2 separate regions of the Homo sapiens genome follow, and region 1 is linked to region 2. The links come from fine-mapping of genetic effects on gene expression. Tissue or cell type: whole blood. Region 2 holds a variant in brackets; the other region holds the start of a gene. All regions are shown on one strand. Distances are from middle to middle.

Region 1 (8,187 bases), 170 kb before region 2:
TTAATGTCCTCAGCCATAGACATAGTTATTATTTCTCCACATTTGTCTATATTTTGATTTTCTGATTAAGATTATGGAAATACTGCTAGATGGCTGGCTTCATTTATTGAACTGATCTTTGTCTGCCAGTTGAGTCTGTACTTATCTCAATTGTGTAAGCCAGGTTTCACCCATGAAGACTCCCTTTTTTCATCACTTGGGACTGACTGGGGTCCCGGTTTCTGCTGATTCTCTGGTGTATTTTCTACCTGGTTTTTTACACCACTTGCTGGGCTCTGCAGGTGCTACTATCAAGGCCTCTTCACTCTGACACTCTATTGTGTTTATCTGTTTACACATCTAGCGAAAATGTGAGCCATTGGAGGGCAGAAGCTATCATATTTGTGTTATATCCACAGAGTTTATCACAGAGCTTAATATATGGATCAGGGGATTCAAACTGGTTGCCAGGCTTTCGGCCACCTGTATTTTTTAGCCAGCACAGGGTTAACAATAAGTAAATTTGAATGTCTTTAGGTGGGCCTACTCTCTGCTATTTGCCACAGTCTCTATCTTCTTATATGTGACCACAGTCAATCTCTATTTCACCAGTCTCACCCATGTAGGCACCCTAGTTTGTGGTCCTGGTTGTAGATGATGAATACATGCTAATTATGTGAATGAATACATCAATGAATGTACTTCTTATTTTGCATGGAGAATTGATTGTTATCTAAATATTCTTGTCCTGAAAATTCCCCTAGTTTCATCTCTCATTTTGGAAAATACAGGTAGAAAAACAGATAACTGTAATGTGCAATGCACAAATAAGCATTTCTGAATACTTGCCAGAGGTGAGCCACTCTGTGCATTCTAGTGGCTCAATTAGAGAGGAAAACAAATTCAACTGTGTTATTTGCAGAACCCATAAGATGCAAACAAACCATTTGTTGTGGAAAAGCTCAAGATTTTTGTATCTGAGATGAGTGATAACTTCTACCTTGGATCATCTTAAAACAGGCAGTGTAATTTTAAAAAACAATGACCCCGACCAACATGCCAAATGTATGTTCAACAACGTATTTCCCAAGGTAGATTCTTAAGATACCCCCCACTATTGCCAATGACAACACACTAGAGAACAATTCAATAAATGTGATTTGGGGCCACAGAAATTCTCTACAGTATGAACCTCTCCCCTGGCCTAGGGGAAGTTTTAAGCAATTAACTGAATGAAATTCAGATCGTCAGACAAAAATGTTGGTACTGAGATAGTAATCTTGGGCAAAGTTAACCTTCATCTGAAGAAGTAAATTTGGTTCTTCTTTACCCATCTAATGAATGGCAGACTCAGTCTCTTAAGAGTTAACTCCAAGCCTCTAATAATTTTAACTTTTCAGAAGCAACCACTACCAGATGTTCATTTTGGCCATAAAAGTTCCCACCCAATAAAGGTACAACATCCATAAAAGTCGATCTTTGAACAACTTACTACCTGTGAACATTTCCAGCTAATCAGCTTGTGTTAAATACATGTTTAGGTATTTGAAAGAAAAGAACTTGATACATAGAATCATCATTAGGACAATTCAATGCTGATGTTGATTTCCAAAGAGATTTTATAAGAAGTCTTTCTGAATAATTAGAGAATAGGACTCATTTTCTGTTAGGTCCATTCTTTTGTTCAAGAAAGTGAAGCCTACAGGATAAACTCGTAACTAGTAAGTGGCAGAGCTAGGTCTGGAGTGAGTCACTAAATTTGGTCTCTCCACACCTGCCTATAAAAAGGGGATAACATGATAATTATACCAAAGGAAAAAAAATCCTGAGTACATATAATAACAAAGACTATTTGCACTAACAATAAAAGAAGTACCATTTCTCAACGCCACGTAACAGAGTGCATATTCTTCCTTAAAGCACACACTAAAATAAACATTTGTTACTTGGACAATAGACTGAAGTTTGCTTTAACCATTATATTCGTTTTAACCCCTGGTAGATCTAAATTGACATGTTTATGTCTCAGTCATTTTTCTACTTCTGCTCTTATCGGCCCAGAAATGATGAGAAGCACCAACGAAGGAAAATGTGAGGGAAGCTAGGTGCCAAGCCCTTACATTACTGCTAGCAGATCTCAGACAGCTTTCTCTTTGACATAAAGGGACTTGTCCCAGCAAGATTAGCTCTGTGTCCTCCAAATGGAGCCAGACTGTGTTGACTGCATGGCCAACTCTGATAGGATGACCCAAGGAGGCTCCCACTGAGCAGAGAAGATATGGAACTCTAGATCCTATGCATTTACAGACAGGGTCTTGTCTTCTTTAGAGAAGACTGCTTTAACCCTCATTGTCAAAGACTCTGGGTGGCTACAGCAATTTTCATTTGTTTCATTTGAAATACTCTGGCTCATTCAAAAAGGCACAGGGACGTGGCTAGATAACTGCACTAATTGTTATCTAGCCTTTGTATGCACTTAACCGTGCTTCTGCATGTATGACAGGCAGTATAGCCATGATAGCCAAGGAGTACACTGGGCCTTCAGAAGACACATCTTCCATTTACAATTTAAAAGAAGAGGTGCCAATATTAGATTGTCATGCAACCAAACATACATTGTCTAAGATATAAAAGCAATTGTATCTGAAAGTGGGAAATCTCCACCTCAATTATCACATTGACAATAGGGGCATTTCTTCAGAGGCCAAATATCTGGTTGCTCAGAAGAGAGAGAAAGCTGCCTATGATACGTGCAGGAGATTTTATTTTTTTTTAAGTATAATTATGACATCACTGACCAGTGCCTATAATGTAAGACCTGGTTCAAAATCTGTTTAGAGAAATTCAATATAACAAAAGTGTGTTAAAAATTTATCAGCTACATGTATGAGTCCAGTTGCCATTCTAAATGCTGGTGTGGTTATGTAGTAAAGTTAAATTGGTATAAGCAACAATATTATTCCCTGGAAGGGACATTTCCTGGGTGGAACATAGAAAAGGAGACAGGTAATATGTTTGAACAATTAAAAACAAAAAACCCAGGAAGCTGGGCAGATGAGTGTATTGTGGTGGGAAGGGCAAGTTGTGACCTTAGATTTCTGTATCTTTAGTTGTTTCACTTTCTATACCATTTAATGATTGAAAAATGCGGTTGGACTGCCGGAACCACAGAACAGGAACTCCACTGGGGCAGGAGTTAAAGGCAAAAAAGCTTTTGTGTGGGTTCACTTACTATTTTAATTCATTTGTATTCTTAGTCAGCTTTAAAGGTATGATTGCTTCGTCTGCCTACTGCTCTTTCTCTTCTTCCTTTCATGCTGTTTTACCCTTACCTCTCTCTGTTCTCTGCTAGGGGATGTAACCTTCGGCACGGTGGGAAAAGCCAATTTTGCCATAGGCCTCAGCTTGCTCTGACTCGGCTACTAACTTGACTCATAGCTTCAGGCAGGTTATTTCATGGTTCTGATGCTCATTTTCCTCATCTTGAATCAGAGATTTTATTAACTGTCTCCTGGTTTGTGAAAATTCAATATGATCACGTGTTACATGCCAATCACAGAAACTGGTGCGAAGTTGTGTTCCTCAGTGGTAGCTATTGTTGTAAGTCGGAATTGCATGACAGTGGCAGCTGTTTTCTATCACGTCCTCATGTTTTCTAAATTTTTATGCCCCTTCCTCCCATTTCCTACCTTAGTATTGTTAATAGCTAACTTTTATTAAGTGGTTACCATGGCCCAGGACACTGTAATGAGGATTTTATGTGAATTACCTAATTAATTTCTCAGAAAGTATGAGATAGCTATTATTTTAAGCTATTTAAGCTATTTTAAGCTATTTAAACAACCAGTTTGTTGAAGTTAAAATTTAGAGAGGTTAAGTGAACTCGTCCATTTACACAATTAGTTGCCCAGGCAGAATTTGATTTGAGGTCTGACTCCAAAGCCGGAGCTCTTAATCACCAGTGACACCAACTAAACGCTTCATTTCAGAGCTCGCCTATTCCCAGAGGTCCCATTCCCGTTTTAAGGTTATTTTCTGTAACTCTCTTGTATCTAATTTAAAAATGCTATTTCCCAGAGATGAGTCCCTGATCTCCCAGAAGGCATGGATCATACATTTCTTTTCCTAATCCACCCAAATTCCTAGAGCGCACAGACTTAGGCTCGTTCATAGACGGGAAAAGAAACTGACCAGGCAGTGAAACCGAGCAAACAAAGTGCAATAAGACAATTACAGCAGGAAAGCGGCGTAAAAAAAAGTAGAAAAAGAAAGTAAGGGAAAGGGGAAATAAATAGCAAATATTCGCTGAGTGCCAACAATCGCACGGGAGGGTCTTTAGGGTTCTCTGCCGAGTACTCGGGACGGCTTGCTGAGCAGTACGCCGGCCTTATCTCATAGATGAGGCACCAAGGCTCAGGAAACAGTTCTGTGGATCTGGGCGGGCATCTTCCACCCACAGTCGCGCACACGTGGCATAGGTTAATAGGCTGTCTGGCTCGGGTACCTCTTCCCAGGGTCAGGGCGTTACAAAGGGAGGCTGCTGTCTTCCCATGAATCTATTAGGGACCTACAGGAGCGAAGAGAACCCTTCTGAGTATCAGCGAAGACAGCTTATTAAGACTTTACGAGTTTGCAAGCCATCCTCGTCCTATTTCCTCACTTCGGACTTTTTGGACACACCTTCCTTTTCCTGTGAGCCAACCCAAACGAATGAGTTACAAGTAATCGCCTTCTCTACGCCCAGCCAGTGCCCAGCACCAAGCATAGCGCCTCCTTGCAACACCCGGCCGAGCTCCCGGCGGCAGCGCGGGCGCTTGGGTCGGAGGCTGCTCAAAGGTGACGCGCGGCCGCCTCCTCCCCTTTAGGCGGGGCTCGCAAGGGCGGTGGGGGGGCCCGAGGAAGTCCGGGGGCCCTCGGTGATGCCCCCGCCCCCGCCGCGTCAGGGTTGCTCCCTGCGCTTCCGAGTGGCGACTGCAGCGGGTCCGGTGCAGGTGAGGGGCGCGCGCCTGCCCAGCTTTGCAGCCCCCGAACGCGGCCTCGCACAGGTGAGGGCGGTGCCGGGTTCACCTGGCAGCGCGCGTGGGCCGGGCAGCACGGTCGCCGCCTGGGGGTGGGCGTCTTCTCTCAACCGAAGCTGGGAGTTGGGGAGCTGGAGGGTCCAGGATGAGAATTCAGTGGCGCTACTACCCCGGAGCTGCTTGTGGTTCAGAGATCAGAAAGGTGTCCTGAGGACTGGAGGCAGAAATCCAGGCGTGGCGTACTGGAAGGCGCACTAGGGGAGGGCAGCCTGGCCCAGAATTTCTTTGCATTTTAAAGGCCACACATTCAGTCTCCCCGGGGCGCTACGGAGGTAGTCACCGCCACATCCAGGACTCCTTCCACAGAGGTCAGTTCCTCAGCTGGGTGGGCTTTAATACGCTCTCTTCGTAGAGACCCGGAGGTTCAACTTTAATTCTTTGCGCTGACATTTGCTCAACGACACCGGAGCAGAAATCCTTGGGATAATTGCGTAGGTAACAAACAGTGTCTCAATCCCACTGAAGATAAGTAAGTTAAAAATAAAGACAGTGATGTTGGTGGTGAACTTGAGTGGCGATTAGTTTCCGCAATTAGTTCCCTCCTGCACTGTCCATTTGTTAAGCAAATGTGCTGACGGCTTTTTTTAAATGATTGGGTTGCCATAAAAGAGGTTTTCTCTAGTCTGAATGAACTTCTGTGCGATGCTGACTGAGGGTTTCAGCCTCCTCTAGATGCTTACAAGAGCTTGGTCTGGAAGGTACAAGGGTGCGAACCCTTAAGGTACCAAGCAGCTTCTCAGTGAACCGTGAGACGTTAGAACACTTGCTTCAGGACGCACAGAATTCAGACACCACTTATTGAAGGATTTGTATGGATTATAATTTACATTAGCATTCATTTTTTGCTTGAGTCAGTAGCATTTCAATTCAACAAATATTTATTGTACACCTGTTAACGGGCAGACCTCTGAGAGCCGGGCTGGTGTGCTGTTGGGTAGCACAGGTGTTGATATTAATACAAAGGGGAATCTTAAGGCACTTATTCCTCACAGGTGGGTGTTTAGAACGAGACCAATGGTGCTGCGCTTTGCCTCAGCAGCACCTGTGTAATCGCTGGTTATAAGTATTTAAATGCAGGGAGAATGTAAATCTTTGAAGAGTCTCTGTCATTAGCCTGATCAGTCATTCCAAAGCAATAAAAATTGTCAAAACCATGCTTAAAATAAGATTATTAAGAATTAGCTCTGTGCCAAGCACCATGCTAGGCACTTTGTCTTGTCTATGAAATCTACAAAGTAGATACTATTCCCCTGTGCAGATAAGGAACTGAGGCAGAGAGGAGTCCAGTAATTTGTACAAGGTCAGTGGTGAATTTAGAAATTGCATGTGGCTATTTCTGAGTGCAGAACTCGTACTTTTTCACTATTCCATGCTGTCTCTAAGATGGAGAGTGTAAATCCGGCAGATTTAATATAAGAATTCAAATTTATATTCATAGATCCTATCTCCTGGGGATTAATGGAGTTAAAGTAGTCCTCAGGAATGAAGTGAGCACTGTTTTCATTGCACTTGTGTGGTCAAGCTGTGACCTATCTGTGACTAGTAGATGTAGCTTTAAAAGATAAAATTTATTATGTGTCTTAACATATTTTGAAAGGCCTTTCAAAATATGTTAAAAGATAAAATTTATTATGTCTCTTAACATATTTTGAAAGGCCTGATATATCCAAACAGGGCCAATTAATAAAATTGCATATATATTCTCTCTGTGTTATACATGGAAGGAACAGCTAATTTCCTATTATTGGTGTGCTTTACTATGGTCTCCTCCTGCAGAGGTGAGTTTCTCAGCTGAGTGGGCTTTGAAATCAATTTCAGCTTGATTTCTTACAGCTGCAAGATGATTAGCGGTCTCTTGTCACCTGGAAAGGACTTTGTGTTTGTGTAAACCTGTGCTCACACACGAATATATATTTTTCCTTAAACCTATTTCCAGAAGTACTACTTCTGGAAATTGTAGAGTACTGCAATGTGATGATCTGGCGAGGAATCAAGTTCCTTATTTGACTTTTGCATAAAGGATTTATAACAACTGACAATTTCTTTAAGTGCATGTAAACCAGGAAAGTAATTTTCAAATTAAAATTATTATACTGTGGAGAATGGAAAGTGAGTGAAAAATAGTACTCTGAATTCAAATAATATTTCTTGTTGTGGAAAACACTTGCTTTCTTAAAACTTTTCTTGTAATTGTTGGTAATTACACACAGAAATGGAAGGGGTTTTATATTTAAATTACCTTGAATTGTTGCCAGTTAACTGTTGAGAAAAGGCTTTGCCCGTGAAGCGAGGATCAGGTAGAATATTTTGCCTGCGTCAATCTTGGCACAGATTTTTTTTTTCCCTCTATCTTCACGTGGAGGTGAAACAGCCAGACACCTTAAACTCCTCTTTAGGAGCTGAGCTGTTAAGTCCTTCCTAGAAGGTGTTTATAAAAGTGTGCCTGACCTGGTAAGGTGTTCTCATGGGGAACCAGGGTGGGTGATGAAGGAGGAGAGTATGTAGGGGATATGAAGCAGGGGCAGTTCCAAGTTTTGTGAGGCCTAAAAGGTAAACAATTTGGAGACTCTCTTTAAGAAAATTAATACAAAATTAGGTGTGAAAGTGAATATGTATTTAAAATGAGAAAAAGAGATGATAATTTACTGGAGATTTCTGCCTGTTTCTGTGGAGATCTTGGGCAATTTACCAGAAATGCTTACAAAAACAGGAGTGCTGATTGCAATCCGGCTTCCCCTCTCCCTGAGAACACTCAGCATTTCCCAGCAGCTTGTCACACCCACGGGGGGCCCTGCTAGTGAGAAGCCCAAAGTTGAAGCTCTGTTACCCTCAAAGAGTGAGAGGGAAAGTTGTGGTTAAAGGCAAAGGACTCATGCTCCACTGAGCAGAGAAGAGACTGCTGGATGGGACAGCAGAGACACTCTGGACACTCATGTCCAACGAACAATTCTGAGAGCTGGTCTTCAAGACTTTCCAGGTTGGTTTGTTTCTCAGGGATGCCTTTGGCCATTGGCTTTTCCAACTATCAGTCACCATTTATTGGGAGTTTTCTAATGTCCCAAGTCCTGAGTAAGGCGAAGTCCTGATTGTCAAGAACTCCCAGTCTCATGGAGCTGATTTCATTGATCAC
Region 2 (8,187 bases):
AGTAACTTGCCCAAGGTGAACTCCAATCCCTTCCCAGAACTCTGTAGACCTCTGGACTAGATAAGCTATAATACTTGCATGTTTTAATTGTAAATCTATTCATTTGCTTCCAAACTAAACAACATAGACACTCATTCTGTGTCTGTATCTCTCTTTATCTCTCTCTCTCTGTCTTTCTCTTTCTAGTTCTCTCTCTCTCTCTGCCTCTGCATGTGTCTTTCTCACACAAATTCACCAACATTAAATACCTGGCTTCTGCAGTTTCACCAGTTCCATTTTTGTGCTGAACATTGTTGAAACAGGCTATTCTTTTTCAGATGAGCGCTAAAATGCATTTGATTCTCATTTCCTCTATGGATGATCATATTTTAAAAAGACTTTTAGAAGTGTCAGGTCTTCTCCTTTCTATTATTATCATATTTTAAAATTGGGATCTATACAAAATATAATTTAAATGATCAGGGTACCTGATCTAGATGGAATATTTGTAGTATTTAAATCTAGTTTCCTGTTTGTCATTTTTTAAAATCAGATCTTATCAAGAGATGTGGACCGTGTGAAAAGAATCACTATGGCAATATGGAATACAATGCAGTTCCTTAAAAGCTGCTTCCAGTGGGAATCCACATTAAGAAGTACAATAGCATTCGCGGTAAGCTTCCTTTCTTATGTTCAAACTATTTGCTTCTTATTTGCATCTATTCATCTTTCTGAAATATATTACAGCGTAGGTGATTACGTGGGGGTTGTCTTTCTAAGACAGTACTTAGGTCAAATTTACCTGGGAAACCCCTTAAATTACCCAAATCTTAGTCATATATGGTCTCTTGGTAAATTTAAGAGCACTACTGTTGTATATATATGTTTAAATGTTTCTCCAGTTGTTGTTACAGCTACATTTGTATAGCCCTGCATTGTGTGTATTTTTTTTCTTTCTGTGCCAGTGACCGCCCATAATTTCTGAAAAATGGCATCTGAAAAATCACAGGACTAAATAATAACTGAATTGTTCAATTTACATTTTAAGTAAATTATTCCCAAACTTTGATATTAAAGATGTTTATTCATTTCAAGCCAGTTGGGACATACTGATCATTACACATTGCAATTTCATTCAGCACCGCAAAGAGGAACCACCCCTGTCTATGAAATGTACCCTTTTCTCTGGTGACATTGGCCCATCCTTATGAGCATAATAAAATCGCAGAATCAAAGCGCTGCAAGAGATCTTAAAACCACCTAAGTCTACCACTGAGAGCCCAAGAATCTTGGAAGGACTTCACAGCTGGCCTCATGCCTTCACTTTATATCTCAGGGCATTTTCTCTCATTTGTAAAGGGACTTGTCCTTGATCAAATTGGTAATGTCAGCCATGGGAGGAGAAATCAAGTCTCCCGACTGCAAATCTTTGTATATTTGGTATCATGCCATTCATTTCTGTCCTGTGCAAAGATCACTATAAAAACTAATACGAGGTATGAGTGGTCTAAGAGTGTGAATATCAGTCATGATCATTGGTGAATCTGATTTCTGAATGTTATGTGGTTCTGCTTCTGTTTTCTACTGCCAATATATGCTGAATGTTCTCTCTTAGCCAACAGGCATAGCCTCATATAAAAAATGGGGGAAAAAAAACATTTATTAGCCCAAGAAGCCAATGGGTTCAAGGTCACTCCCAACATTTTTATGCCATCAAGTATATCAGCTCCAAAAGAGGCTTTTCCTTTGCCATTGGGGGGTATTTTGTTTGCTGTCGTTTATTTTAGTTCTCCACTGCTTCGGTGTAGAGGACCTATGCTGCCTGTAGGCTTGACCTTTCCTATACTTTTTCTGCTGTCTGAAGTTGCTAAAACATTTGGCCTTAATAAAAACACTAATAAAGGTTTTATTAATCTGTATCCGTCATTGTCTCAGCATTTGTTTATCCACTTCCCTTTCTCACGTTCTCCTCAGCTGGTGGCTTCATGCGTTGAGTTCCCCTTCAACCTCCCCAGCTCCACTTCCCACCCGAATTCCCTTTCAAAACTTTCCATGGAATGTTCTATGCAATTCTGGGCAAAAGAGGAAAGTGAACACAATTGGTGGCTTCTTCCAGTCAGCACCCAGACAGCCACTGTGAGGAGGAGAGGATTTCCTCTTTCTCGAGTTTAGTTTCTGGCACTGTGATTTTAGAAAAACAGAGATCTGTTGCCCTGGATTCTGTAGGGAGATGACAGAAATGATTAATGGGCTGCTGGCTTGATCTGAAGAAAGATTAGAACAGATGAATAGAAATAGGTTGTCTAATAGAGGGGACTTCTAAACAGGAAGGGAGGCTTAGAAATGGAGCCACTTCTCCACGGCCTTTTCTCTGAGGGATTCCTCACTGCTGAGCTTCATGCCTCGGAGCAGAGCCCGCCCCCACGCTGGAGAATGCAGGCTGCCATGTTGTACTCTCAGATCTCTGAGGCCCACAGCAAGGAAGATCAAGGTGGTGTTCTCCTTGCTGGTTTTCCAAAGTATGATTTTGCAAGGATCCATGGGTATATGCGACTGTGTGTATAGGGACATTTCTCATTGGACACCATTGAAAAAAATGCAGAGCCAGTTAGATACGCTATATACCTACAGCCTATCATTTGGTTGTCCTGAAAGTACTGGAATAAAAGTGCTCACTTAAACTCGTTTTCAGTTTTAATTTAAAACTCTACTTCCAAAAATTTAGACCATGTGTATGTTGACTGGCCTTGGTGATTCTCAGAAATACCGCAGCCATAACGTGGTGGATAATTCCCCTCCCTAAGTTGATGAAGTGTAATTTTATTAAAAGTTGTTTTTTTATTCCTATTATGATTATTCCAAAACCATTTCTGCTATTAAAATGAGAGGCTATACAGAAAATGCTTTCTTGAGACAGAATAATAAATGTATTTCAGTTTCATCTCTTATTTTTTATTGTTTTTTTTTTTTTTTGTGACAGAGTCTGACTCTGTCACCCAGGCTGGAGTGCAGAGGCACGATCTTGGCTCACTGCAACCCCTGCCTCCCGGGTTCAAGCGATTCTTCTCCCTCAGCCTCCCAAGTAACTGAGACTACAGGCACGCACCACCATGCCCGGCTAATTTTTGTATTTTTAGTAGAGACGGGGTTTCGTCATATTGGCCAGGCTGGTCTTGAAC[C/T]TCGACCTTGTGATCCACCCATCTCGGCCTCCCAAAGTGCTAGGATTACAGGCTTGAGCCACCGCACCTGGCCTCCGTTTCATCTTCTTTCATTCTTCTTTTGGTAAGATTATGGGTAGCCAAGCTTTCATGTCCTTTTCTTTGAAAACGCCTTCATTTATGTACCTTGCCTGTAGACCTGTTAGCTGTCTGTAGGGGACTGGATTGGCGGGGCGGGTTGCACACCTAGGGGGCTGCCCTGGCTGTAGTGCTGTGTCCCCGAGTCTGTGGGGCTTCATGATGGGTTGTCTTTCTGCAAAATGTTGGATCCTCAAGCCCAGGCTCTCCTCTGCCTTTCTTCACTATGCAACTGCCATATCTGTCAGGGGTGACACACACTGACGGATGTTCTCCTGTGATCTGTTGACAGAATGCTGCTTGGTGTCTTTATTCGTCATTGTGACACTTTGTTCATGTTCCAACTGCTCGCCTTGGCATGACAGGGCAGAACAGAGGCGCTGTCTGAAGCAAGGTTTTAAGCCAAGGATTTATTAAATGACCCGTAGTCAGGTCCTCTAATTGAAATTAGCGAATGTGATAGTTGAGGGTTTGCTACACAGGTGTGAAAGGAGCTATTTTAGTTGAACCAGTCCCTGGTGGGGCTTTTCTTCTTGTGACAGTACAGGAAGTGATGCTAACACAACAAACTAAGGGCAGAACTGAAGGGATGTGTTTTTCTTCTGTTTTTTGAGAAAACATAAAATATTAACTTTATGTTCTAGACTCTAGCTCCAGGTGATACAAACATGAACATTGCAGAATCATGTTTAATCTATTCTCAATGTCAATTTTAAGACTTTATGAAAGCAAACCATACGTTTTCCATGGATGCCTATGTACATGTGCATGAACATAATCGTATCTTGTTGAAAGCAGCAGTTAAAGAAAAGCAGGCTCTTAAGATCTAGGTCCGCATGGTGTCTCGTCAGAAGTGGATGGACAAACGTGAGAGAACTCACCTTGCTAGATGACCCAAGCATCACCTTCCTCTACCATGCGATTTATCACTGCTACACTTACAGGAGTGGTTGTATTCCCAACATGAGAGAAGAAAGTTATCAGTAATGCACCTGCTATGTTAATGTTGCTGCATAGTGTTGAATTTATTGTTATCATAAGAAATTAAACATGGGCATTTGTAGGGTGGTCAGACCATTCCAAGTCAAGTTTCTATAGACTCAGTTCTTCTTGTTAGGATGAACATTGAAAATCTTTCTCATTTTGTCTTCTGGGTCTTTCTCTTTCCCCTATGTTTTTCAGATATTTTGGTATCTTGCCTTTTCTAAGGTTTACTTAGTTATATTAAATTAAGGATATATTTTTTCTTTTTTCTTCCTTCAGAAAGTAACATTCTTGACTTTCCCATTTGAAAAACAAATTAATATGAGATGTTGACTTAGTGAATGAGGCCAAATAGAACTGAAATATTTTGCCTTGAAGTAAGTGCACCTGTATATTTCCCTATGAATAGATTTGTAAATATATGTGGTATTTTATACACATGTATATACATTTATATACATACACAAGACGTGTACATGGCCATTCCCACACAGATTTTGACTATTTGAACTATTATTCATAGTTCATGTTATTTCAGTGCTTAGACACTGTCCCAAGGATTTTATAAATTTAGTTCTCACAACAACCTGCTGATGTAGGTGGTGATTACTATCTTCTTTTTACAGATGAGAAAAATAAGCCTATAGAGGTCAAGTACAGTGACAGAGCTCATGTGTGTGTATGAGGTAGAGGTGGAATTGAAACCCAGGCCATCTTGCTTTAGTCTGTGCAGGCTTAACCCTTCAGCTATTCTGCCTCTCACTGATGCCCAGGATGCAATGTTTGTTGTCCTTGTATTTACATAGTGACACCGGGACCAACCATACTGATTGTTTCAGATCTGTATTTAGATATTATGTGTGGGGATTAAGCCTGTTCCAAGCTGTGATGCTATACAGGAAAGAAACCCTCATTACATGGGCGAGAATAATTCTTTAGCTCAGTTATTTTATTCACAAGTGATGATGAGACCAAAATTAAAGAAGCCAAACATGGAAATGCCCAGCCCCTGGGCATCACATGCATTTGGCATCCTTGGAATCCAGCTGGATAATTTGAAAAACCCTAGAGCCTTGGTTCTAGACTGAGTCCCAAATTACAGTCTGACTTGTTTTTCCCCACCTTTGAGGAATGCTTTTAGATGATGTAGAGGGATTTTCAAGGGGAGAAGAAAGTAAAAACAGAAAACAACTAGTGGAAGGGATCATGGAAGGCATTGGACTTTTCAGTTGTTTTTTTTTTTTTTTTTTAAGTATTCCAAGTTGTTCAGAAAAGGGATGGGGTAGAAGAGAATAACCACCCCTTATGTTCCTTTAAAATATCTTGAAATAATAGCTATAAAAGAGATAGGCCCATATGTCTAGTGGGGATCTCTATTTTATATACCCAGTGTCTCAGTGCAAATACATTATTTGATCATAATAAAGATAAATTTGTTCTCAAAAGATAACTTTGCATTGTGATATTTATATTGGTAGATCCAATCATGTATGGGTGTTTTGTTATGACATACTTATATTTTATAAACCCCAATGTTGTCTATTAAAAGTCCTAAAGTTATATTATTATATAAATGCATTTTTCATATGTTAAAATATTATTTACTTGACAGATGGCATCATCAGAAGGTGATTTTAAACAGCAAAGTTCTGATGCTTTTAACATAGAATTGCATTTATGCAGTTTCATTTTTCCACCGATATTTCAGGCACACACCTATTGTATCAAGGGAGGCAAGTTTGTGGGGCATTGATGGATTCTTTGCTTTATTAAATTTTTACTTGGATGTTTGATCTAAAAAGTAATCTAAATCTACCATATATCAACGAGTATCTTCATAAAGCTATGATTTTAACATCTGTGACTTTTTTCCGATTTTTTGAGTATAGGGAAATAAAGAATTTACTTTTCAGAGTTGACAAGGACTGAAATATGATACACAAATTAAAGCATCAATCAACCTCTCCCTCAATAAAGTTAAAAAATACAACTGTCCACTCGCTTGGTAATATCCCATATTTAACATATATAGAATTTTTAGCTTTTAGAGATCCTAGAATATTGAGAAAATGTGAAGTAATTTCACATAGAACTTAAAAACAACAGTAGCAGTAATAGAGCCAACCCTTCCAACACACATGTACTTGTGCACACACACACACACACACACACACACACACACACACACACATGCATGAACACGAAGAAGCAGAGGACATTTGGGAAATTAAAAGTTGCTCTGTTGAATGTTTTGTGAAAGCAGTTTAGTAAAAACCAAAGGCAAGGCCTTGAGGACTGCTGTTTTCCATGATTTCTCTGTGGACCGAAAAACATTCAGATTCATTTTGCTTTGGTACAAATGACAAATGCAACACTGTTTTGAGATTCGACTCATTAAATAATGCTGGTCAAATGTCTTTTTGATGCTTTCGATATTTATGTGTTAACTGTGTCTAAAAGATTTACTTTAAGTTCTGTCACCAGTTTACTCACAACGAAATGCACCTGCATTTCATTAAGCTCTTTCATTGGCTATGACATCCACCAGAAGTCACAACTGGATGTGCAGAGCAGACATCGCTGCCCATTTGCTAGGTGTGTGTGCAGTTGATGCTCAAAAATTAAAAGTATTTGTGTAAAGCTGGAAAAAAGAAATTTCAGTTACAATAACCAGAAGAAGAGGGGTTTTAGACATCTTAAAAGTGTGTATATATAAGTGCACACACAGAACCATATACACATATATGCAAAATATATAGGTATATTCAATGCTTAAAATATTTGGCATCTTATGGTTTTAACATATATAAGATAGTTTCCCTAGTCTTCCTTTTCATGAAGGACTACATAATATACTTTCAAAATGTTTTAAAGTTTTTTTCAGCACTTTTTTAAAATAGGAACAATCCATCATTGCATATTGTGAGCATAATTTTTACAACATAATTGCACCTTCTATTGGCAGGTTCTCAGGCATTAACTAATTATGCAATTTAATAAAATTACAGTAATCGCATTAAAAAGATTATCTGTTAAAAATTTAAAAGGACACTATTAACTATTTTAGCATATTTTCATGTTTATATTTTCAATTTTGTGAGTTGTGATTCCAGACAGAATCATAGCTAGATCGACTGAAATCACTTATTCTTTTGGAGCATTCCAATTTTGACTAGTAAACATTAGATCTCAATTATTGTAATCATAGCACAGCCATATTCACATAGCCTGGTAGATGTAAATGGTTAGCTCCCCCTTTTGTGTGTAGGTCCAGGCTCTGCGTGGGACCCTGTGTCACTACCACTGCCTTTTCTGAGCTTTCTGTTGGTGTGCACTTGCAAGCACATATTTTCTGCCTTCTCTGAATTTTCTTTTCAGGATTCTGTGATGGTGAATACTGAATGTCAGCTTGATTGGATTGAAGGATACAAAGTATTGATCCTGGGTGTGTCTGTGAGAGTGTTGCCAAAGGAGATTTGAGTCAGTGGGCTGGGAAAGGCAGACCCACCCTTAATCTGGGTGGGCACCATCTAATCAGCTGCCAGTGCAACTAGAATATAAGCAGGCAGAAAAATGTGAAAACAGAGACTGGCCTGGCCTCCCAGCCTACATCTTTCTCCCATGCTGGTTGCCTCCTGCCCTTGAACATCGGACTCCGAGTTCTTCAGTTGAGGAACTCGGACTGGCTCTCCTTGCTCCTCAGCCTGCAGATGGCCTATTGTGGGACCTTGTGATTGTGTGAGATAATACTTAATAAACTCATATATATTAACCACCAGATGCCAAGCAGAGCTCTACCTCAAGGCTATGATAATACTCAAATATGAATATATATATATTCCTATTCCATTAGTTCCATCTCTCTAGATAACCCTGACTAATACGGATTCCTTGTCTTTTACAGATCCCAAGTAGTGCAGTCTAATTC

Evidence for each region. PIP is the estimated chance that this variant, and not a neighbour inherited with it, causes the effect.
Region 1: it holds the start of MCTP2, and the variant in region 2 is fine-mapped to the expression of MCTP2 in whole blood (TOPMed, PIP above 0.99).

The regions. Positions count from the first base shown.
Region 1 is chr15:94,226,641-94,234,827 of GRCh38, forward strand. MCTP2 (multiple C2 and transmembrane domain containing 2) reads left to right here and starts at 4,921. Exons shown (of 23, transcript NM_001385001.1): 1 at 4,921-5,024. RefSeq lists an enhancer at 3,176-3,315 and a silencer at 4,851-4,980.
Region 2 is chr15:94,401,368-94,409,554 of GRCh38, forward strand. It overlaps MCTP2 (multiple C2 and transmembrane domain containing 2), which reads left to right. Exons shown (of 23, transcript NM_001385001.1): 17 at 533-652. Among named protein-coding and RNA genes, the nearest start is that of MCTP2, 170 kb to the left of the region's middle. The variant C/T (reference allele first, on the strand shown) is at 3,159.